Homo sapiens: one gene and its partner. The protein of the gene in region 1 interacts with the protein of each later gene in a pairwise test. Each region holds a gene or a part of one and is shown on either strand. Other genes may lie near its edges.

What was found.
Region 2: the proteins of SDSL (region 1) and TUBGCP4 interact in a two-hybrid assay, tested with the Homo sapiens proteins (2 studies listed by BioGRID and IntAct).

The regions. Positions count from the first base shown.
Region 1 is NC_000012.12:113,432,301-113,435,650, forward strand, and holds part of SDSL (serine dehydratase-like), read left to right. Parts: intron 1-1,833; coding exon 1,834-1,922; intron 1,923-3,028; coding exon 3,029-3,256; intron 3,257-3,350. UniProt on the Homo sapiens protein: Catalyzes the pyridoxal-phosphate-dependent dehydrative deamination of L-threonine and L-serine to ammonia and alpha-ketobutyrate and pyruvate, respectively. Also exhibits racemase activity towards L-glutamate and D-glutamate.
Region 2 is NC_000015.10:43,380,952-43,384,603, reverse strand, and holds part of TUBGCP4 (gamma-tubulin complex component 4), read right to left. Parts: intron 1,302-3,652; coding exon 1,100-1,301; intron 1-1,099. UniProt on the Homo sapiens protein: Component of the gamma-tubulin ring complex (gTuRC) which mediates microtubule nucleation.

The DNA of each region.
Region 1 (3,350 bases):
TCTTTCTGTCTCTCTGTCTCTCTCTCTCTCTGTCTCTGTCTCTCTCTTTCTTTCTTTTTTTTGAGACAGTCTTGCTCTGTTGCCAAGCTGGAGCGCAGTGGCGCCATCTTGGCTCACTGCAACCTCCACTGTCCGGGTTCAAGCGATTCCGCTGCCTCAGCCTCCTGAGTAGCTGGGATTACAGGTGCACGCCACCACACCCGGCTATTTTTTTGTATTTTAGTAGAGACGGGGTTTCACCATGTTGGCCAGGATGGTCTGGATCTCCTGACCTCAGGATCTGCCTGCCTCGGCCTCTCAAAGTGCTGGGATTACAGGCGTGAGCCACTGCGCCCAGCTGACAGGTATTTTTCAACCTCTGCCACTCTCTCTCTCTCCCCACTTTTGGAGTCCCCAGTGTCTCTCGTTCCCATCTTTGTGCCCATGTTTATACCCAGTGTTTAACTCCCAGTTGTAAGTGAGAATATGCAGTATTTGGTTTTCTGTTCCTAAGTTAATTATCTTAGAATAATTGCCTCCAGCTGCATCCATGTTGCTGCAAAGGACATGATCTTTTTTTGTGGCTGCGTAGTGTTCCATGATGTATATGCACCACATTTTCTGTATCCAATCCACCATTGATGGGCACCTGGGTTGATTCCATGTCTTTGCTATTGTGAGTACTGCTGTGATGAACACACAAATGCAGATCTTTTTGGTAAAATGGTTTATTTTCCTTTGGGTAGATACTCAGTAATGGGATTGCTGGGTCAAATGGTAATTCTATTTTTAGTTCTTTGAGAAATCTCCAAACTGCTTCCTATTGGAGCTGAACTCATTTGCATTCACACCAACAGTGTATTTTTTGTTTCAGTAACTCAGGGGAATGAGACTCTTCTCTTCAGCCAGATGGGAAATTCCTTGCAGTCAGAGACCATTTCTTGGCTTCTCTCCTGCTGAAGAGTCCCCATACCTAGAACTGGGCACAGAGTGGGCACTGCAGAGTCCCTGAGGATGAGCAGGGGCTAGTTCTGCCCCCCTTGTGACCCTCCATCCCTCCCTTGGGAGAGGAGGCCATTGTCTACCATTTAGTTTCTGTATCTGGTTCCTGCTGAGATCGGCTGGCATGGGGTCCCTCTGAAATGCTGTCTTAGTTTGGATTCTCCCAAAAGCGGTCCCTGAAATGAGGACTGGGGTGCATGTGGTTTATTTGGGAGGTGATTGCAGGAAGCATTGGTAGGGAGTGTAGAAATGAGTCAGGGAAGGGAAGAAAGCCTGTCAATGGTGTGTGAATGAGCAGGGGACCTGGATCTCTGCCACAGAGGCCAAGCCAGTGAGAAGAGAAAACTCACCCCTGCTGTGGTTGCCTTGGGTCCATCATGGTCAGGGCCGGCCCTATGTGCCATCTCTCTGGCTGCTTGAACTCAACTAGCAGGCCATCAGCTGGGCCATTGCTGGTTTCCACGGACACACTCTATGGTGACCAAGTTGCTATCTGGTGTTTGACTTTAGGGGGCTTCTCCCCTACTGGTTGGCTAGAAGTGGGCACCATGTGGCTGACCTTGGAGCTGACCCGCTCCCAGCCTCCCTGGCTGGCCTGGCCTGGTTTTCATAGTGTGGCAGTAGGACAGGTCGCTTGGGTATTGTGGAAAGCACATGGCATCTGTTTGTCCGCCTGGAAGTGCTTGTCCAATTCTCAGGAGGCCTCTGGGCCCACACCAGGTATGGTCTCATCTGCAGGGCTGTCCCCAGACTACTAGATCCTGGGGCCACCAAGGAGATCCTGGGCCTCTGCTCCGGCCTCCATAGCAGTCCCACTCCCGGCTGTTCTGAGGGCCCTTGGTTTCTCTGTAGGTCTGGGACGAGGCCAATCTGAGGGCGCAAGAGTTGGCCAAGAGGGACGGCTGGGAGAATGTCCCCCCGTTTGACCACCCCCTAATATGGTAAGGCTGACGCCCCTCTCCCCAGGAGTCCAGAGCTGGGAGACCTTCACTGAGTCAGGGTCCTCCCATTGGGCAGAAGGAGAAACTGAGGCCCAGAGGGGAGAAGAGGCTTCAAAGCCAGGCAGACATGGGTTCAGATCCCACTTCTGCCCCCTTGTGAATTGTGGGACTTTGTGCAAAGCACCCCAGATCCTGTGCCTCAGTTTCTATGTGTGTAAAATGGAAGTGATAGTACCAAGTCTCCTTTACTGAATATGTGCTTTGGGACCAGGCACCAGGCTAATGGCTCCTCCTGCACTGTTCTATTTACCCTCCCCAAAGCCCTAGAGGTGGGTGCTATTATCCCCATTTCATAGGTGAGGAAACTGAGGCACATCGAGGTCAAACAACTTGCCCCGGATCACACAGCTAAGTACATGGCAGATACAAAGGGCTGCAGTCAGGCTGGTCCCAAGTGATACACTTGTCCCCTCTTAACCACACATTGCCATTGCCTCTTTGCAAAGTTGGGGAGGGGGCTAAATTGGGATAATGTCCAAGAAAGGGCCTGGGAGGTTGATGGAGATGGGAAGGGATGAGCAAACAAATACATAATAAAGAAAATGAATGAGGCCAGGCGCGGTGGCTCACGCCTGTAATCCCAGCACTTTGGGAGGCCGAGGCGGGTGGATCACCTGAGGTCAGGAGTTCGAGGCCAACCTGGCCAACATGGCAAAACCCTATCTCTACTAAAAATACAAAAATTAGCTGGGCGTGGTGGTGCGCACCTTTAGTCCCAGCTACTCGGGAGGCTGAGGCAGGAGAATCGCTTGAATCCAGGAAGTGGAGGTTGTAGTGAACTGAGATCGTGCCACTGCACTCCAGCCTGGGTGACAGAGTGAGACTCTATCCAAAAAAATAAAAATAAAGAGAATGAATGAAGCTGAGTGAAGTAACTGTTGCAGGACTTCCTCTCCCCTCACCGTGGATGGGATGGGGATGGTGGGGAGGGGTTTATGTATATGAGGGGGCAGAGAACCCACCCCTGGTAAATTCCCCCACCACAGGAGCCATCTGGGCTGGGGTCCTCCCTCACTCTGCTTCTCCCTCTCACCCCCCCTCCCCAGGAAAGGCCACGCCAGCCTGGTGCAGGAGCTGAAAGCAGTGCTGAGGACCCCACCAGGTGCCCTGGTGCTGGCAGTTGGGGGTGGGGGTCTCCTGGCCGGGGTGGTGGCTGGCCTGCTGGAGGTGGGCTGGCAGCATGTACCCATCATTGCCATGGAGACCCATGGGGCACACTGCTTCAATGCGGCCATCACAGCCGGCAAGCTGGTCACACTTCCAGACATCACCAGGTGGGTAAGGGCTGGGGACATTTGTAGGGGCTGGAGGGTGGGTGTGCCACTGTCCTAGGGCCTTCCAGTCCCAGCCGGTGGAGACGGGGGCACC
Region 2 (3,652 bases), on another chromosome or scaffold:
CCATCTCTTGTAACATTTTACTTCAGCCTTTATTTGATCATTTCAATTGAATTACTACTGTTTCCCCAAATGAACCATGTCCTTAATGGCCCCTGTACCTTTACACATATCATTCCTTCTGCCTGGATGTCTCTTGATGGCTCCTCCCAAACTCTTTGCAATTTAGACATACCTTCCACTGAAAAGCCTTCCCTAGTCACTCCAAGACCCTATCCCATGACCATGTTCCAAGAATACCCATATTTAGTCTTTTCAGAGCCCTTAGCACACTGTAATGTAACTGTTTACTTTTCTATATCTCTTCCCCTAAACTATGAGCTCCTTAGGGACAGACACTACTACTTTTTATTTGTAGCACCTAGAACAATGCCTAGCACATAACAGGCATTCAATGAAATATTGCCACAGGATAAATGAATGAATGGATGGATGGATGAATGGATGAATATGGACAATGTAGAACTTTGAGGAGTCTAATCAAAACACCAAACTGGCCAGGCACGGTGGCTCATGCCTGTAATCCCAACACTTACAGGCCGAGGCGGGTGGATCACCTGAGGTCAGGCGTTCGAGACCAGCCTGGCCAACATGACAAAACCCTGTCTCTACTAAAAATATGAAAATAAAAAATATGAAAATTAGCTAGGCATGGTGGCACATGCCTGGTTCCAGGTACTTGGGAGGCTAAGGCAGGAGAATTGCTTGAACCTGGGAGGCAGTGGCTGCAGTGAGCCAAGATTGCGCCATCGCACTCCAGCCTGGGCGATGGGTGAGAATCTGTCTTTAAAAAAAAAAACAAAACTCCAAACTGTATTTAAAATCTAAAATGTAGCTAGCTGCTCCATTAGAGTAGCTACATAAGTAAGACTTATAATCTCTCAAATGCATATATTGGGAAAGAGGAAACAAAAAGAATATCACAAACATATTTTCTATTTTATAGTCTCACACTAGTTAAGATAAAGCCGAATGTTTACATCGAAAGGATTGATGGAAGGTGCTCAGCTATGAGCTAAGAAGGGATCACCAGAAGATCATTTGTGTGCATGCTTTTCTGACTCCTGGCAGGAGAGTGCTAGGCTACTTTTTGGGCTCTCACCAAGTCCTGCAGTTCTCTCAGTTGTTTTCCTGTCAGTCCCCCAATGCCCAGATCCTCCTCGTCCTCTTCTGGCTGGGCACTGACATTACCAGAAGATGGCCCCTGTTTGATAAAGAATTCTTCATGCTGGTCCAAGAGGAGTCCATGGAGCATCCAGGCTGAGAGCTGTTTATACATGACCCCATGACAAACGGCCAGGATTCTGGGCAGAGTAGAAAGTAAGAGGCTCAGAAGTCATGCTTTAAACTGTTACAGGATAAACAGAGGCCTGAGAATTTGATGAGTCATAACAGAAATAACCAATTAAGTTAAAAATAATTGTGCTATTTTAATTTAAATGTGGGTGAACTAACTCACTGAATTTCCATATTTGCAGCCTACACAATGAAATCTAAAATGTTCAGTATATGTGCTGATATTATTTTAGGGAAGACATTTTCTTCCCTTCTTTTATGTAATTTTCAAAACTGATGGGTCCTAAATATGTACAACTGTTTTATAGCAATAAAAAATAAAAATAATAAAAAATTTTAAAAATCGACTTAATGGAGTCTCTTTTTGGCTAACACAGTATTAAATTTGTTTTATTTTTGTTGGAATCACTTAGGGAGAGAATATTCAATACGTGAGTGCCAGGTATACATGAAAAACCATTATCTAGCAAAATTCAGAAACTAAAACAAAATGCAGAATGGTTGTTGGGGAATAGGATATTCAGATGGTCTCAAAGGATCACCCACCAGATAGCATATTAATTAAAAAGGGGAAAATGTACCTCTATAATGGAGCAGGACGTGATGAAAACACCTAAGCCAAGTGATCCAACTTCATAACATCCGTGATGGGATAAAGTTACTTTCTGTACCTTCTAATATGATGTAATGGGAAATAATATCACCTACATAGTATTCTTGCCAAAAAATGTTTAATCTGAATCTAATCATAGGGAAACAATAAATCCAGATTGTGAAACATTATACAGGACAGCTGGTCAGGACTCTTAAAATGTCAGCGTCATCCAAAACACCAAGAACAACAAAAGGCAAGGGGGACGGTTCTAAATTAAAGGAGACTAAAAAGACATGAGAACAAAATGTAGTATGTGAACACTGATCGGATCCTGGATTGCAAAAAAAGAACAGCTATGAAGGAATTCTGAGGGACAACTAGAAAAATTTGGATATAGTATTACTGAATTAATGTTAACTTTCTTGGGTGTAATATGGAATTGATGTTCTATAAGAGAATCCCTTTTTCTTTTATTTTTCTTTTTTTCTTTTTTCTTTTTTTTTTGAGACAGGGTCTCACTCTGTTGCCCAGGCTGGAGTGCTGTAGCACGATCATGGCTCACTGCAGTTTCGACCTCCTGGACTCAAGCCACCCTCCCACCTCAGCCTCCTAAGTAGCTGGGCCCACAGGCGCACACAGCATGCCTACTTTTTTTGTATTTGTAGAGACGGGGTCTCACTATGTTGCCTGGGCTGGTCTCCTAGGCTCAAGCTATCCACCCACCTTGGCCTCTCAAAGTGCTAGGAATACAGGTGTGTGCCACCATGCCCAGCCAAGAATGCCTTTTTTCTAAAGTGATACAAGCTGAAGTATTTAAGTGTTAGGGTATCTGTGACTACTTTCAAATGACTCTGCAAAAAAATTTGTGCATTTCACATATACGTATAGAAGGAGAAAAAGAGAAATCAAACGTGGCAAATGTTAACAAATGGTGAAACTAAAGGATACACTAGCGTTTGGTTGGTTTTTTTTGTTTTTTGTTTTGAGACAGGGTCTCATTCTGTCATCCAGGCTGGATTACAGTGGCGAGATCTCAGCTCACTGCAGCATCAACCTCCTGGGCTAAAGCAATCCTTCTGCCTCAGCTTCCCGTAGCTGGGACTACAGGCAGGCACCACACCTGGCTAATTTTTTTATTTTTGGTACAGACAGGGTCTCGCTATGTTGCCCAGGCTGGTCTCGAACTCCTGGGCTCAAGCGATCCCTCTGCCTCAGCCTTCCAAAGTGCTGGGATTACAAGCGTGAGCCACCGAGCCCAGCCTACAAGTGTTTTATTATACGTTTCTTTCAACTTTTTTGTAGGTTTAAAATTTTTCAAAATAAAAGGTTGGGAGAAAAAGAAATTACAAGAACTTGACTGTGTTATTTAACTGAATGGAATCTCTCTTTAAAAAGATCAAATGTGAAGCTATTTACATTTATGCATTTCTGAGTATGTGGTCTGTAAAGTTTGGTCCCTGCAAACACAGAACAAACATGTATATATAGTATCATCTACATTAGATTTTATATTCTATACACAAAAGTATAATAGAGAATTAAGTCCCTAAGGAATGTTCTGGAGGATTTACTCATGCAGTGGTTAGAGTGGAGATTAAGAGTTGTGAGTGGCCGGGTGCGGTGGCTCACACCTGTAATCTCAACACTTTGGGAGGCCAAGATGTGAATATCGGTTGAGCCTAGGAGTTCGAGACCAGCCTGGGCAACATAGCAAAGCCTTCTCTCTACAAAAAATTAAAATAAAATAAGAAAAAAAGAACAAAA